Linked DNA regions of Homo sapiens: regions 2, 3 and 4 are each linked to region 1. The links come from fine-mapping of genetic effects on gene expression. A gene starts in region 1. Each other region holds a variant in brackets. All regions are shown on one strand. Distances are from middle to middle. Region 1 holds the start of FAM110C (family with sequence similarity 110 member C). Region 2 overlaps LOC105373324 (a long non-coding RNA gene). Region 3 has its middle 21 kb from the start of FAM110C. Region 4 has its middle 57 kb from the start of SH3YL1.

What was found. PIP is the estimated chance that this variant, and not a neighbour inherited with it, causes the effect. A credible set is the group of variants that fine-mapping cannot tell apart.
Region 2: its variant is the best candidate, but not a certain one, in a credible set for the expression of FAM110C in whole blood (INTERVAL, PIP 0.76).
Region 3: its variant is the best candidate, but not a certain one, in a credible set for the expression of FAM110C in lung (TOPMed, PIP 0.67).
Region 4: its variant is the best candidate, but not a certain one, in a credible set for the expression of FAM110C in blood mononuclear cells (TOPMed, PIP 0.59).

What each region holds. Positions count from the first base shown.
Region 1 is chr2:44,091-48,507 of GRCh38, forward strand. It overlaps FAM110C (family with sequence similarity 110 member C), which reads right to left and starts at 2,415. Exons shown (of 2, transcript NM_001077710.3): 1 at 1,350-2,415. The coding sequence starts at 2,295.
Region 2 is chr2:157,611-162,027 of GRCh38, forward strand. It overlaps LOC105373324 (a long non-coding RNA gene), which reads right to left. Exons shown (of 4, transcript XR_922689.3): 4 at 3,114-4,417. Among named protein-coding and RNA genes, the nearest start is that of SH3YL1, 100 kb to the right of the region's middle. The variant G/C (reference allele first, on the strand shown) is at 1,928.
Region 3 is chr2:23,565-27,981 of GRCh38, forward strand. No RefSeq gene overlaps it. Among named protein-coding and RNA genes, the nearest start is that of FAM110C, 21 kb to the right of the region's middle. The variant G/T (reference allele first, on the strand shown) is at 2,242.
Region 4 is chr2:204,756-209,172 of GRCh38, forward strand. No RefSeq gene overlaps it. Among named protein-coding and RNA genes, the nearest start is that of SH3YL1, 57 kb to the right of the region's middle. The variant C/T (reference allele first, on the strand shown) is at 1,949.

The sequences.
Region 1 (4,417 bases):
ATGGAAATACCCTTGCCAGCATTCATTCATCTCAGATCCAAAAGACAATTTGTGAAAACTACAAATTAATGTTTGTTTGCTTTTTAGAACTTTGCCTATATATATTTGTTGGGAACTTAGGCTAGTGGAAAACACAAATCTTCTATAAATTATAAGGAAGAACTTAAGTCCTGAGCCTTCTGAGTTCAAGAAAAAGAATGAATTATCTTCTTCTCATTAATTTTCATGTCTGTACTAAAGTCATAGCCAGAGAAATTATTGGAGATATTTTTAGCTGTCAAACATAGGTGAGCCCTGTGCAAACATCTCTTGGGCAGCCTCCCCCAAACTCTACAGGCTGCCATGCATCTTCACTTAGTTTATCACAATGGCAGAAAATAATTTCATCTCATGATTTTTAAAATTTACTTATAGCAAGTTGTCATTGAAGGGTAAGAGGAAAAAAAAGATGTCGCAAAGTTTAAATTGTTCGTTCTCAAAGACAGCCCTGAAAAGGTTCTTTCTCTTCACTACTTTCCAAGACGCCCATAGGGAAGAGCAGGTAACAGTGAAGACCAGCACTCCTCAGTTCCCCAGTGAAAAGCAAAAAGAGCTCGAGGTCAATCCGGCACTACTGGTTGTCCAAAGGGAGGTTACTTCCTGTAGTGTCATCAGAGGCAAATAAACTATAGACTCTAGTTACAATCTAGTCCAATTTCCCCAGTTTAAAAACCTGAAGCTCTCAAAACAATTTAAATAAAATTTAGCCAAATAAAGATCTTTGTTGCTAAGTGAATGCCAAAGTGCTACAAGATCCTGTGGAGAAGTTCTCACCACTTCAGCACAGGCCTCCAGGAAAGTGCAGGGAGTCTTCCTTTCTGTTCCAGTAACACAGCAGCGCCTACCTAGGGCTGCAGGTGGACTGGTCAGCTCCAATCAAACATCAGGACCGCCCACAGCACAGGTCAATGAACTCAGGAACTAGGGCTCTCAAGCTGTTTTCAGCTCAGGAAAGAATACTAGGGGTGTAAAACTGCTTTCTGGCAGCATTTTGGATTTCTCCTGTTTTCACAATAATAAGCCAAATGGGACATATTAATTTGCAGAATTGCCTTTCCAGGCAGCCAGACGCAGCAGACTCCTAAGGGCCTGGACCAGCAGGTGCCTGGATTGGTACCTTCTGCTCTTCAGCAGCGGGGGCTCAACTCACAAGCCTCTGCGTCAGTCTCTTGGGTCCCTTTCACACTGTAGCTCAAAATCGCACTCAATTCTAAGCAGCTGTAACTGGCCATCGCCCAGCTCGGTCACACTCACCAAGATTCACAGCCCCGCACACGGCCAGCCCCGCCCCCAGCCTTCTGGGCACACACCTCGGGTCCGGCTCTGCTCCTGGCTGGGGGTCTCCTTGGCCTTCTTACAGGTGTACAGCCACTTGATGATGCGGGCGTTCCTCTCGATGACCGAAGTGGTGCTGGGCACCTGCTCTATCAGCTCCTCCTCCTGCAGCCCCTCGTCGTCGCCGCCGCTGTGCCGGGAGAAGCCGCTGCCGGAGGTGGCGACGCTCACGCTGCGCACCTTGAGGGTCACACAGTCCGACCCCGCGGTGAAGTTCTCCCTCCCCAGGGCCTCCACCACCTCGGGGTCCAGGCCGCAGTACTGGAAGAAGGTGTCAGACTCGGCCAAGGCAGCGGAATAGCGGGAGCTGAGGTCCGACTGTGAGCGCTGCAGCCCCCGACGCCTCACCACCCGCGGCTCTGGCCCAGGGGGCGCGGCCGGGACACTGGAGGGCGCCGCGGACCGCGCGGCTGGGGCTGGGGTCTCGGGGATTGCGGGGTCCGCCGCGGGGCCAGGAGTGGTCGGGACCGTCTCCGGGTTCCCGGCCTTGCCCTCGTCTCCCGTCCGGGGCACCGGCGCCTTGTCCTTACCCGGCCCCTGGAAGAGCTTCTTCACCAGGCTTGCCCTGGGGCCGTCGGCGCCCGATCCTCGCACGAATTCGCATTTCTGCCGGTAGATGATCAGCGAGTCCGGTCTCAACGGCTTCCGCGCAATAGCCCTGCGCGCCACCGGGGCCGGGGCGCGGGCCGGGGGCCCAGGGTCGTTCCCCGGGCACTTGATCGCCCCCGGGCCGCTGCCCTCGGAAGCGACGCCCCGGCCAGTCCCCGGCCGACCCCGCACATACTTGGCGCGATCCGCCGCCAGCCTCTCCACTGCGCTCCTGCGCGCCGGCCGCGCGGCGTCGGGGTCCCGGGTAGCCGCGGGGTCCCGGGGAAGGAGCCGCTCGTTCGGGGGCGCGCTCAGGGCCGCCAGGGCGCGCATCTTCGCGGGGAATGGACCGACCGGGGTTCCGGGTCCAGCGGAGACGCGCTCGAGTGGTAGAGCCAGTCAGTCCCAGGGCCGGTTCCGAAGTCCGCGCCGGGTGGGGAACGGCGCCCCAGTGCCCAGCTGCCCAGGCCCGGGGTTGGGGAGAACCGGAGTCTGCACCGATTGGCGAAACTCCCCAGTTCCCGCCCCTCCCGACCTCATCGCCCACACCGACTGGCACCGCCCCCGCCCCCGCCCGGTGCCCCGGCCCTGGCCGCGTCCCCGCATCCCCGCTCGTCCCCGCCCGTCCCCGCCTCCTCACTCCCGCCCGGGCCCGCCTCCCTGGCCGCTCTCCGGGTGCCAGCGCCCGCCCTCACCTCGCGTCCGGGGTCCCGGCCCTCACCTCCTGCCCGGTGCCGTCCCCGCCCCCCCTCACCTTCCGGCGGCGCTGCCAACCGCCTGGAGGACGCTGGGGCGAGCAGGCTCTGAACCCCCACTCGCTCAGCCCCAGATCCCCGAGGTCACTGCTGGACGCAGGCATTTCCGGGGAGGGGGAGCAGAGGGGACGTCCCCCCACCTCCCCCGGGCAGGTGCCTCACATCCTTTGAATTCTTAAAGTGACCTCATCGTGTTTGGAAACTTGACTGTTTAATTTTGTCTACCTGAGCTCATATTCTTATTAACAGAAAGGAATAGGACATAAGAGGAAAGAACACGCAGCGCACGCCAGGATCAGCCTACGTGTTGGGTGGCAAGAACGCAGGGCCTCGGATTGGGTCCGACTCGGTCGCTGGCCGGCAGCGGGCGTGGCCGGGCCCGAGGACCGAGCTAGGACTCTCAGTGGGGCAGGCTGGGGCCCCAGGCGCGGCTCAGTGGATTTGGAAGAAGCCCAGCCAAGTGTCCAGAATCATTGCTATTTTTACGGTAACCGAGGCAACGGGGAAACCACGAGTTCACCAGGCAGTGGATCAGCCTAGGAATGCTAAGAGTCTAAGATAAAATACTTCCCAAACTCCATTATTTCAAAAATTTGGACAAAATACTAAAGTTATCTCTCAGACATGTGAAATGTTCACGTTATCGCGTTGTGAAGACAACTCCGTAACAGGCTGTGCTTTCAGCCTTGTGGTTGAACGCTCCGAGCAGCAGCAGCCCGGAAGGCAGGGAGGGCGACAGGTGCAGATGGGCCCCCAAAGTGGGCACGAACACCTCACCAACGAGGAAGAGGACCGCAGCAGGGTGGTGCTGAGTGGGCCTTGGGGGTCTTTAATCTCCTTGAGCCCCAGCGAAGCAAAATTTCATAGGGATAGTAGCACAACAATAAATCGCCTCCTGAAAGCCAGACCGCCCAGACAGCCTCGTTGGAACATGTAAGACTCATAGGAAAAGGAGTCTAGGCCAATAAAGTAGAGAGTGGGAGAAGAGAAGGAAGGATGCGGGGGTGGGGAGTGAAAGAGAGGGACAGAGATGGAGAAAGGGGGAGCTCCTGGGTTGCCACAGATGGTTTCCTACAGGATGCGGGAGGATGGGGCCTTGAGGTCTAAAGTCCAGCCTGCTCTCTGCTTGGCAAGCCTGTTCCCTAAGTCAGAGGAAAAAACCTTTTTAATTGTGTAGCCCAAAGTGTCTTCTTTTCCTAATTTGCACTACTTCATGGGCAACAGCAGCACTTCTAAGACAGAGAACTGCAAAGTACAGGACCTCTGGAATTTGACCCTGGGTCCACAATTTACCTTTGGACAGGTAACAAACGTTCCAGGTTGTTTTGTCACCTGTAAAAATTTCTGTTTTAAATTTACAAGAAAAGACAATCCCATTAAAAAGCGGACAAAGGACATGAACAGACACTTCTCAAAGGAAGACATTTATGTGGCCAACAAACATATGAAAAAAGCTCAACATCATAGATCATTAGAGAGATGCAAATCAAAGCCAATGAAATACCATCTCACGCAAGTCAGAATGGCTGTTATAAAAAGTCAAGAAACAACAGATGCTAGAGAGGCTGCAGACAAATAGGAACGTTTTCACACATTGATGGGAATGTAAATTAGTTCAACTACTGTGGAAGACAGTGTGACAATTACTCAAAGACCTAGAACCAGAAATATCATTTGACCCAGCAATACCATTACTGAGT
Region 2 (4,417 bases), 110 kb after region 1:
CAGCTGACTGAGTGATAAACTTATCCTTTAAGATTAGTTGGCCTTCAAAAGAGTCAGGTGACAGGGAGGTATGCTTCCTCAATGCCTCCCTTAGTCTCTCCAGAAAGGCAGTAGGATTTTCTTCCTTTCCCTGTGTTATAGTGGACATCATTGAATAATTCATAGGCTTCTTTCTAGTTTTCCTTAGTCCTTCTAGCACGCAAGTTAGCAAATGTCTGTGACACCAATTTCCATGTTCTGATTCTGTGTCCCAATGAGGGTCTACACTGGGAACTGCCTGCTGGCCTGTGGGGAATCACTCTCTTTCCTCTGTTGTCATCCTGTCATTGACCTGACTGAGATACCAGAGATCACCAAACTCTCGGGCTGCAGTTATGGTGGCACTTCTCTCATTTGGGGTAAGTGTCTGATCTAGCAGTAACATTATATCTCTCCATGTCAGATCAAAGGATTGTCCTAACCCTTGTAAAACATCAATATAGCCATCAGGGTTATCTGAGAATTTACCTAGGTCTATTTTAATGTGCTTTAAGTCTGAGAGAGAAAAAGGTACATGCACTCTGGCTGGGCTGAATTCTTAGTTATACTTACTGATATAGCAGTCCTGCACCCCTTTTCCCGCCTTTCTTGACCACAAAGAAAGGGGTCCAGGCTGCTGGATTCTAGTGGTCCTTTACCAGCGTGCCCAACATTGCCTTTGTGCTCAGCGGTGAGTCCTAGAGCTGGGCTGGGTTCCTGAGTATTTCATAACAACCCAGTTGTCCCATCAAGATGCATCCCCATAAACAACAGATCTTATGCAAATTCATTCCAGAGACGGTGTAGCTAACTTTTTGAGTCAGGATTGAGATAGAGTTTTTTGATTCTGTAAGTACTTTAAAGCTTGACTGAGTGCAAACAGCTCCAACATTTGAGCAGACCATTTTTTAGGCAATTCTCCTAACTCTGCTTCCACAAGAATCTCCCTATCAATTACTGATACCCATTGTGTTTTTTTTCCTCAATCATTTGGGAGGAACCATCTATGGTCCTGTCCTGAAGGGAGTTCCTCCTATGTCTGGTTGGATCTTTGTATGGTAATTAAGATTTAAATCCCCTGTTAGGAAATCTGCTTGGTTAAGGTAATTTTCAGTGGTTAATGTTAAATCACCTTTTTCTAACAGAATAGCCCCATACTTTAAGATTTTGGAGTTAGTAAGCTACCTTTTTGGTTTTTGACTTAGAATAATTCTTAACTGGTGAGGTGTGCTCACAATGAGGTTTCCTCTAAAAGTTACTTTTCTACTTTCTTCTGTTGGCAAAGCAATTGCCGCTACAGATTGAATGCATTTGGGCCATCCACGGGTTACTGGGTTAAGGATTTTTAATAGGAAGGCTACGGGTTGTCAGTGGTCTCAGTGTTTTCAGGCTACGCCCTTGTTTACACTGACAACAAGGTAGTATTGGAGTGTTATAGAGTCATGGAGAAGACCTTCAATTATCAATTATAGGTTTTAAATTTACCCTAGCTTTTAAAGGAATAGGGCACACTTTTTTTTTTTTACTATTTCTATCTTTCTCCTTCTCTCTTTGACTCCCTGCTTGTCTCTCTGCCTCTTTCTCCTCTCTGTCTCTCTCTCTCCTCTCTGTCTCTCTCCTCTCCATCTCTCTCCTTTGTCTCTCTCCTCTGTCTCTCTGTCTCTGTCTCTCTCTGTTTCTCTCTCTTTCTCTCTCTCTCTCTCTCTCCCCATCTCTCTCTGCCGTTTACAAACTTGGGACCCTGGCAAGAGTGGTGGGGAATGGGTCCCACATAACTGCCCATGTTGAGAGCTGTATACCTAAATCAGGAGGGACACTAAGACTCCCTGGGTTTATAGCCTAGATGCCTGAGGATGCAGCGTAGAGCTTCCCTAGATCCCTTTGGAGATACAACTTGCTAGAGGAAAAA[G/C]GAAAGTCTGAACCATTAGTACTTAGGAGGCAGGGATTGGAGGAAGTAGATTCAGAGGTAAGGAGAATTTTGGGGCTACACTTTCAAGAAAGTCATGGTTGGGACCCAGGAAGTATGGGTCAGAAGGAAAGGTAGGGGTGCACACATGTAGAATAGAGACTTCTGGCTGCACCATGATCTCAACCAGCTAATTCAGGGAGTTTGGAACAACAGCTTTCTGCCTCTAGTCTGCCCTTGGCTTCCCCAAGAAAATTGAAAGTGGAAGCTGGTTCCAGGCAGACCACAGAAGGGTTGGGGGTTGTTAGAAAGCCCTTCTCCAGACAGCCTCACACCTGAGTCTTAGCAGCAGCCATGCTAATTGTTTTTAACTGGCTGACAGGTGCCCGGTATTTTCCTCCAATCTAAGGAAGGATAGGACAGAATAGCAAGCAAAAGTGGTCCAATATTACTCACCACTTTGGAGGTCCCTTCATGGTTACCAGAATGTTACCAGGGTTCCTTGCTCCCAGAGCTGCCAAGATGGTGGCAGGCCACTTCCAAGATGGCGGCAAGCCTCTTGTTCTCTGAACTGGGGTTCTTGGCCTCACGGATTCCAAGGAATGGAAAATCTTGGGCCATGTGGTGAGTGTTATAGCTCTATTAGAAACTGTGGGTCATGGAAGAGAACCGTGGAACACAGCGACTAGTGTTCAGCTCGATTAGGATGAACCTGGGCACTTAGCCGTGCAGGAACGATGGCAAGCCTTTAGCCTGATCCGGAGCAGCAACGGGTGCCTCACTGGATCAGAAGCACAGCAGACACCCTGTCAGATCCGGAGGGGTGGAAGTCAGTGGCAGGTCTGCATCAGCGACAAACAGCCGTGGTGGATGGTGAGTGAAAGCTCAGCTCGAGCCGTAACAAACATGTACCAGAAGAGTGTGCAGTTGCAAGATTTAATAGAGTGAAAACAGAGCTCCCATACAAAGGCAGGGGACCCAGAGAGCGTAGCCATTGCCGGCTCAAATGCCTGGGTTTATATCCCAATCATTGTCCCTCCCACTGTGCTCTCAGGTGATAGATGATTGGCTATTTCTTTACCTCCTGTTTTTGCCTAATTAGCATTTTAGTGAGCTCTCTTTACTACCTGATTGGTCGGGTGTGAGCTAAGTTGCAAGCCCCGTGTTTAAAGGTGGATGTGGTCACCTTCCCAGCTAGGCTTAGGGATTCTTAGTTGGCCTAGGAAATCCAGCTAGTCCTGTCTCTCAACAGGACACTGGGTTCCTAGCCTTGTAGTTGTGGCTTCTACGGCATGGAAGGGTCGTGACATGATTCACCAATTCACCACCCCATCTGAGTTTCAACACTTGGCCAGATCACGGCACTGAGCTTCTAACCTTGCAGTTGTAGCTTCTATGGCATGGCAGGGTTCTGGTGTAATTCACCAATTCACCACCCCATCTGAGCTTAAGCACTTGGCCATAGCCATGAGGCTTTGCAGGAGACCAGCCTGTGGAAATCAGTCTTGGACAAGGCAGCTCTTGCAGCTCAAACCTAAACACTTCCTAGGAAATGCTCAACAGCGTCCATCAACATGGAAGTTGATGTCCAGAAGAAAAAAGAAAACTTAAAAATTAAAGCAGATGATAAGTAAAGCAGATAAGTATTTTCCAATTAGATACAGACTTTGTGATCACTGTAGAAAATGGGAAATGCAATGGAATGACGAGTGAGTCTGGGGAAAGGAGTGATGTTACTCATGTTGTCATATGTAGAATAAGTGAGGACACTTCTTTGAGGAAGTTCAATTGAGGTAAGAGATGAATGATACAATGAAGGCAGTCATATAAAGAGCTGGGGAAGTGTTCAGGCAGAGTGGGTGTTTTGGAGGGGATACACCATGGCTATGTGTGGGGACCCTGTGGGGAAACAGTTGCATCGGGGCCGGGATGGTGGTTCCACTGGGGCTGTTGCGGTGCTCACAGGGAGGAGGGGTCACCCTCACGCAGTGCTTCAGGAGAGGAGTCAGCAGGCTTTCTGATGGGCTGGTAGGAAGTGTGCAGGAAAGAGGAGTTGGGCATAGGGTGTAGAGTTTTAGATCTGAGCGAGTAGGGATGCACAGCCCTGTGTGGAAATAAGGAGGGTGAAATGGGGGACAGGCTGAGGCAGGGATGAATGTCGGGGAGTCAAGAATTCTGTTTCAGACTTTTTTGCAGTGGGATTTTCTTCTTTTATTTGTTTATTTTTATTGCTTGGTCCACGTTGCTTCTTGGTGCATTTCCCTACTTATCGGACCCTCAGGAAATGCTGACAGTACGGCAGTTGAGGTAGAAGGAAAAAATTGTCATAACGAAATACCAAGAAAACAAATTAAAAATATTTTAGTGAAACAACATTTCAAAAAAGCATTACTTTCTGATAATTCTATAAGAAAAACAAGTTACTCTATATTGAGCAATCTCATTTTTTAGTTAAGGCACACATATAATTAATTTAATCAGCCGGCTGGCACG
Region 3 (4,417 bases), 21 kb before region 1:
TCTTTCATTAAATATTAAACAATGATAGACTGAGTATGTAAGCATGTTACCATCACAGGTGTGGAAGTGCCTAACTGTGACTTAAATTTTAGAGCCTCAGATTTTAGATCTGGAAGAGCCATGGGTTTCAATCCATGCTGGGAGAGGCTCAAGGTTACTCTGGAGAAACACGTAGTTTGGGGAGGCTGGAGACTGAGGGGTAGGCTCTCATTCCCCAGCTCCTTCAATGAGTCTGATCTATTTCATAATTCAGTTATTGGAAAATGATTCAAACAACTCAACCCAATTCCCTGTTATTTGGTCAAAGCCATCAGTCCTCATGCTTCTTGCCACTGCAGCTGCGGGCTCCCACTCTCCACCTGCTCTCCTGCCCAGGTTGGGGCAACCAAACTCCTTCTCTTGCTGAGGAGAGAGGTTAGGGAGGGACCTTTTTTTTTTATTATTTGAGGGTGTGGTTCAGTTGTAAACAGTGTATGTTTTAGAATTTGTGTTATTGTGATGGCGATGACCAAGTACAACATATTTCCCATTTGCCTTGCATTAACAAAAGCATGTATTTTACACAATTGAAGTTTTTGGATCCTACTTATGTACTTTATTAAGAATAGTGAAATTTGAGCAGAGAAGAATTCTAATTTTGCATCAGAGTCAAAAGTGAAAATGAAAGGAACAGACCCATGAAGGAACAGGTGTGAGCTGTTTACTTCATTCCTGCCAGTCCTGGTTAATGTTCAGCTCTGGCCCTGCATCCCACTTTCAAATGTGGTGGATGCCTCACCTAAGAAAGGCCCTTGCCACACTGGCTCTCTCTGCTCACCCAACTGTACTTACTTCTCTTAATCCCCTATGAACACTTTTTTCTGAGTGGGGTGTGTTCTCTGTATAAAAAAGTATTGTTGCACCACTTATTGAGGACTTTTTGGATGCCATGCTAAGCATTTCATAGTCACAAGTGCATTGTACAAACTACCCTTTATAACACTCCAATGAATTTATATTCCCATATGAATCAGCCTGAGGAAGTGGCGTGCTGGAGAGATTAAGCAATTAAATGACAGTATACAGTTAATTACTGAGGGGATTTGGGTTTAGAGCTGGATCTGTGATTCAAACACTCATGTCTATAACCACAAGTGTTACCATATCATTTGCCATATCAGGATTTAGAATCCCTGCTGGCAGGCCTGGGAAGATGCATTGTAACCAGATAAGAGGTAATTGCCACATTTACTGAGTTGTGAGAACCACTGTACTGCCTCTCATAGAATGCCAGGCGCCCCTGTGTTTGTCTCAGTGTCTCCAGCTTGAATTGCTTCACCCCGGCGAAGCAATGCTGCTCCTCTCTCCTGCATGGATCACCTGCTCCTGGAATTCATTTCTCCCATTTCTTAGGTTGCCACTTTACTGTAGCTTCCTGATCTAAGGTAAAGCTTTGATGCTGTGCATGTCCCTAAATGCCTGAGCACTATTCTCACACTGGGTTGGCGGTTTAGTTGGGTTTAAAATATATATATTTCTCTCAGGATGTTAAGGCCAAATTTTGTTTTCTTATTATATCTAGAATTTCAATGAAAAACTTCAGTGCCATTTTGGTTCTTGATTCTTTGCAGGTGATCTTTTTCTTTCACCTCTCTGGAAACTTTTCAGATCTTTACCTCTGTTGTTATCAAATTTCACAATAATGTGCTTTAAATTCATGTTGAGGGGAACTCATTAGATCTTTTAAATCTGAAAATTCATAAACTTTATTTCTGGAAAATGTTCTTGATTTTTAAGTTGAGATAAAATTCACATACTACATTTTACTCATGTAAAGTGTACAATTTAGCACTTTCTGGAAGTAGCACAGACTTCATCCCTATTTAATTTTAACACATTTGCAGCACCCCAGAAAGAAACGCTGTATTTCCCATTTTTCCCTCCTCCAACCTCTGACAACCATTCCTTTTTGAGGCTGAATAATATTCCATTGTGTGGACATACTTCATATTATTTATCCGCTCATCAGTTGGTGGACGTTTTGGTTGTTTCTACTTTTTGGCTATTATGGATAATGCTGCTACGGACATCTGTGTATAAGTTTTTGTGCGGACATATGTTTTTAATTCTCTTCAGTATGAAGGCTTCAGTAGAATTGATGGGTCAAAGAGTAATTCTCTGTCTTACTTTTTGAGGAACTGCCAAACTGTTTTCCAAAGCAGCTGTACCATTTAAATCCCACTGATTTATTTTCTGACATTT[G/T]TATTCCTTCTGCTTTTATGCTTTTCTTTCTGTGAAATTCCATTTTAAACTCTGAAGATGAATCAGGAAAATCAATACAGCTTCTTCAACAAATAAATTACAAGAAAATGATATATAAGAGATATAGGGGAAATGTATAAATTCTATAGGCTTAAAAACACATCAGCTAATCACAATGTATGAATTTTATTTGGGAATATAGATGGAACAGAAGTGGCCATGTTCTTCTGGTTGTTCTGAAGGGTTATAGATATATAGGAGTTTGTTATAGTCATCGTTTATTTACATATATGTTTAAAATTCTCCATATAAGGGTTTTAAAAATTCCACTGGAAGCCTTATGTTTTAAAATGTACTCAGAATTTGTTTTAATCAGAGATGTTAGGACCGGCAGACATGGAAGTGACTGTCCCGTTCATACTCACGAATCCCTAGAAATAGGAGGCAAAGGGAAGCCCCAGGCAGAGGCAGAAGGAGAGAGGGGAAGGCATGGGCAGTAGCCTCTGCTGTGGTCTCTGTGGGACAGCAAGGCCAGGCAGGGCAGGCAGGCTTAGGCTGGCCAGTGTGAATAACTTCAGCAGGCTCTGGGCCATAAGGGCCATCTCTAGTTGCCTAGTACCTGGCCCTGGGGTGATTAGGGAAGGCAGGTATTTTCTCCTACAGTATCAGAGCCAGATAAAGTAGGTGGTTAGGAGTATGGTTTCTGAATTGGTAGTTTAATTGGCTGGCCCTGGGAAAGGCAATCTTTTTCCAGTAAACCCCAGATGCTAGAGCATCAAGAAAATAGAAAATAAGAAAATATAATTAATGCATTCTGTATGCACAGATGGAGTCTTCCTTTGCTTCCCCAAAGGAAGAGTCCACGGGAGCCTGGCACTCCTGGACCTGAAGAAACCCTGAAAGTGTTGGTATCTGCAGATCCTCTCCAAAAAGGTTCGCCAATCTCCTAAGACTGCAAGCCTGACCCCAGCATTCTGGGAGCCAAGAGGGAGAAAGAGTCTGTGGATCTCCCCGCTCAGTAAATTGGCTTTCACTAAACACTCTCTTTGCATAAGCAGCATTACCCAATGTCCTGGAACTTAGAAAAGTCCTTTTTCAATGTCTGAAGAAAATAAATTGTTTCTTTTTCTGATGTCAGGGAAGAGTATTTGACTGCCAGTGTGGAATGAGGGGGACTTGGGATCACACTCTTCCCAATGTGCTTTGAGCCGACCCTCTGTGTCTGCCTCACGATCTCCTCTGCTTATCTAGACACTTGAGAACCCTAACCCAAGCCCTTCTAGGAGTCTGTGGTTTGGCTCAGCTGCCTTTGTAGGCATCTCTTGGGATTAAACATTTTCCACTCTGCTAAGTCAGTACAATCTATTCTTCTGCTTCATCTTCAAAAGACACTGAGCCTTACCCCACCCTCCACACCAAGTCCGTGGCACGCTTGAGGCCACAAGATTGCTGCCATAAGATTTTTGTATTGAGTGCTCTCTCTCCAAGCAACTGTGAGAGATTTCTATGGGCAAGGCCTCTGGGTTCCTGTCAAATTAAATTGTAGTTGAGTGTTGGGTGCTATTCAAGAAGCATCCACCTTTCTTCTGCCTAACAGAGCCCTGAATTATTTAGTCACATGGTTTGAAACATGGGGTGGGTGCTGGTTGACTTAACCTAACCAGCTCTGTCTCATCCTGTGTCACAGTTATTGGTTCCAAGGTGGGTGCATAACTGAGGCTCATGCCAGGTGCCACACAGCACTCCCTTGGCCCCCTAATGGACTTCGGGACAGGCAAGGGCCTGAGTTGTTCCAATTAGAGTCAAATACAAGTTGTGCTAGGTTGTTAGGAACAAGAGTGTGCTTGTTCATGTTCCCCCTTTGATGAAGAATACAGCCTCAGAAATTGTTCCTGGAGATTTTGCCAGACTCAGAATGATTCTGACTTCACTGAAGGCAGAGCAGAAAATTAGGAAGAGACTGATTCCTGGGTAGCATTCATGAGCTTCTCTGCTCAGATTCACCCTGAAGCCTGGCTCCCTTCTGAACTACCCACCTGAGTCAATAAATTGCCTTGTATTTAAAGTCACATTGAGCTGGATTTTCAGTTATTTGCATCTGCAGGTGTTCTGTCAAGCTGGTACTGTGACTTTGTATCTGAGAATATTTACAGTGTTTCTCTCATGGTTGAGTCAA
Region 4 (4,417 bases), 160 kb after region 1:
TCCATAATGCTGGCTTTAAGAATCTCATGAATCACAGATATTTGGCATATTTTCTTAAAAACAGGTGCCAAGCTCTCTTATAGTGCTGCTTTTCAAACATCAGTCATTCATGTATAATTTCACATTTTTTCCATATGAGAAAATCACATTCTCTTCATCTTTTTCAAAAGGAAATCTTATCTTATATTGGTAACTTAAATGAAATATTGGTATAATTTGAAATAAATAAAAACTAACTAAAATATTTACATGTAACTGGGGGCTTACATGTGTCATTTTAAAAAAATAAATAGAAGTGTAAACCAAAAATAAAATTATAAGGCCCCCAACCATCTGAAGGAACCCTTTCTCTCGGTAAAAGGCATTCCAAAGTTAACCTGGAAAACTAGTTCAGGCCATCATGGGAAGGTGGGAGTCAGACATGCTTCATTATGCTCTCCTCCCTTTTGGAATTCAGGAAAAGCTGACCAGCATTAACATCAACACAGATCTTAAGTCTGATTAAAAACCTTTACAATCTATTCTCTCTGAAGCCTGCTACTGGTTTTATCATCTGCATGATAAAACCTTGGTCTCCACAACCCGTTATCTTAACCCAGACATTCCTTTCTATTGATTCTAAGTCTTTAGATAATAGCTTAATTATTTCAATGAATTGCCAGTCAGAAAATCTTTTAATCTACCTGTAATCTGGAAGCCCCCGCTTCTAGTTGTCCCACCCTTCTGGACCGAACCAATGTACATCTCACATGTATCGACTGACATCTCACGTCTCCCTAAAATGTATAAAACCAAGTTGTAGCCTGACCACCATGGGTGCAAGTTCTCAGGATCTCCTGTGGGCTGTGTTACAGGCCATTGGTCACTTACTTGGCTCAGGATAAATCTCTTAAAATATTTTAGAGTTTGACTCTTTTCACTGACAGAAGAATGGAACATACCTTAATATACATGTTGGATTTTACAAAATGAAACTTTAAAGATAGTTTCTGAATGATTAAAAAATGGAGATTTATAACGAGTTAGCAACAAATGGGTATTTGAGTAGATGTCATTTAGGCTAGGATGAGGATAAATTTGTTTCCATTTCAGAAGACAAGTTAGTGTTTTGGTTTTTTATGCTAAGCCCTTCTCCAAATACCACCTCCTATATTTGAAAAATCACAATTATTTCACTATTTTCTCATGCTAATTTCTTGACAAAATTAAGAAAGTAACTATTTTTTTCAAGATACTTTTGTTTCCAAAAGCCTTCATGAGCAATATGCTGTTCTCTTGCTGGGTGTTATTTCACCATGTACAGAAAGAGCACAACTAGGTTTGTTTTCCGTCACTCCACCACCTGTTCTGAAAAAAAATTTACAGAGTCCCAATTTCAAATGTTTCATGTGACTTTCTATAAAACTGAGAATGCAGTACTCTGTCCTTAAACATAATTGGCAATTTTCACTGTCATACGAAAAATTCAGCATAATTTCAATGGCAAAGGTATCTCTATGTAGCAACGGTAAGGAGATTTTTATTGTGAAACAACTTGAATATTTATAATAAAAACCGTCCACATCCAGATTTGATGTTCCACATATTATAGTGTAGATCTCAATTGTGGGCACGGAACTGAATCTTGGAAAATATACATTTTTAATTTATTTCATTCACATTACCCCAAATTCGAAACATATGTAGCAGCCAATTCAGTTGCTGAAGTTTTGAAATATTCACATGTATTCTTAAATGTACTTGCTTATAGTTTGTATAATGTACATAAAATACAATTAAAATTACTAGGTTTTATCTTACTCTAACTAACTCTATTCAGGAAACAATGGGTTTGATGTGACAGTTGTATATGTTTTCTAAGTCACACAAAAATGTCGCCATGTTAAAATTTGAACAGATCAATGTAGACTTGCAGAATGAACGTTGCTGAAGAAGTTGGCATTCTCTT[C/T]GCTATTCCCAGAAATCACTGAAAAGCCACCATGATAATACAGTTTTTTAAGTGTAAAACTTAAAAACCCCATTATCAGCAAAACAAGGAACAGGTGTTAATATAATCCTCAGACTACACATGAATTCTAAGGACTGTCAGACCCAGTTGAGGTCAGGCACGAGCTGTGTGGGAAGAATCAGAAACCAGAGAAACCCCAGTGACCAGAGACCCAGGGCCGTGAGGGTGCCGCATGCTGAGGGCCAAACCACATCCCTTGCATGGGAAAGAGAGGGAAACTGGGGTGGGGGGGGAAGGGAGGAAGGTAGGAAGGAAGGGAGGAAGGGAGGGAGGAAGGGAGGGAGGAAGGGAGGGAGGAAGGGAGGGAGGAAGGGAGGAAGGGAGGGAGGGAGGAAGGGAGGGAGGAAGGGAGGGAGGAAGGGAGGGAGGGAGGGAGGAAGGGAGGGAGGGAGGAAGGGAGGGAGGGAGGGAGGGAGGGAGGGAGGGAGGGAGGGAGGAAGGGAGGGAGGGAGGAAGGGAGGGAGGGAGGGAGGGAGGGAGGAAGGGAGGAAGGGAGGGAGGAAGGGAGGGAGGAAGGGAGGAAGGAAGGGAGGAAGGAAGGGAGGGAGGGAGGGAGGGAGGGAGGAAGGGAGGGAGGGAGGAAGGAAGGGAGGGAGGGAGGAAGGGAGGGAGGAAGGGAGGGAGGAAGGAAGGGAGGGAGGGAGGAAGGGAGGGAGGAAGGGAGGGAGGAAAGGAGGGAGGGAGGGAGGGAGGGAGGGAGGAAGGGAGGGAGGAAGGGAGGAAGGAAGGGAGGAAGGAAGGGAGGGAGGGAGGGAGGGAGGGAGGAAGGGAGGGAGGGAGGAAGGAAGGGAGGGAGGGAGGAAGGGAGGGAGGGAGGGAGGGAGGAAGGAAGGGAGGGAGGGAGGAAGGGAGGGAGGAAGGGAGGGAGGAAAGGAGGGAGGGAGGGAGGGAGGGAGGGAGGAAGGGAGGGAGGAAGGGAGGAAGGAAGGGAGGGAGGAAGGGAGGGAGGAAGGGAGGGAGAGAGGGAGGGAGGAAGAAATGAAGGAAAGTTGTAGAACTAAGTAACATCCAAAATTGTTTCCACAAAATAAATAATGCAGTTAAATATTTCATCAACCACAAAAATTAATGCAGCCATTACTACTATAAAGGAAGATCACAAATCCAGAACGCAACATTTCAAGGGAGAGATGATGAGACACCAGAAGACAATGACCATGAACTGATAGAAGTCAGAAAATAAATAGAAAAGCAGACTTATCTCCAAAAGGGTAGCAAACACAGATGCAGCCCCATGAAGAGCCATTGCAAGGAACCCCTTAGAAAACAGAAAATGAAAACAAAGCAAACTAACAAAACTTAAATAAAGGGTCTGTTGTGAGCTGAATGTTTGTCTTCCCCCAAACTCCTAAGTTGAAATCTACTCCCCAGTTTGACGGGGTTAGGAGGGGTGTTGAGGAGGTGACGAGGTCTGGAGGGGAGCCCCATGGATGAGATTAGAGCCCTTATAAAAGAGGCCCCAGAGATACCTCACACCTTACACCACGTGAGGGAACAGCAGGAAGGCACCACCTGCAACCCAGAACAGGTGCTCATCAGAACACGACCATGCTGGCACCTTGATCTTGGACCTCCAGCCTCCACAACTGTGAGAAATGCGTATCTATTGTTTACAAGCCACCTAGTCTATGGCACTTTGCTGTAGCAGCTTGAACTAAGAGTTAAAAAGACTGTTTCCAACAGTAAGCCAGATTTTATACTTTTAGTAACCATGTCCATTAAAGTACAGGAGGAAATAGATATTTTTAAAAGCAATGCTGAGCTGGCACAAAAAATAGGAATGCAGAGAGCAAAAACAAAGTGAAGGCAGGAATCCTGTAAGGTAATGCCTAACCCAGATTGGGTGCAGATTGCAGACTGGACTCTGAAGGCTGCACTGGATACAAAATTCAGGAGAAGAAGTCAAGGGCTGTGTAAGGTGGGAAGATGAATCAGAGATCCCCAAATAATCTGAGACTCCAAAGGCCATGCACTCTGTGTAAGAATAAAAAGAAATAAACTCTACACACAAAAGAAAAAATTGGAAATTGTCCTACATCAGTGCTGGCATAGGTCACACACACAGACTCGTGGTCCAAAACCCAATTAGATGCCCCAACATGAAGCAGTTCTGGGTTACTTGAGCCCCAAAGCAACCGGCAGAAACAAGTTTCATCTGGAAATCTGCAACATTAAGCCCAGATATAATTATAGTACTGAGGAAATTGATCAGTTTCCTATAAAAATGACAACAAATAAAGAAGCAAGTCACCAGGAGAGAGAAACAGCAAAGAAACATTCAGGCTCTCAAGGGCGCAGGATGGGGTTACCAGACATGAAATACAAAATGATTGTGTTTGATATGGCTACAGAAATAACAGAAAATAACTGAAAATATAGCAAGAACAAGAGACAATAAAGGGATAATAT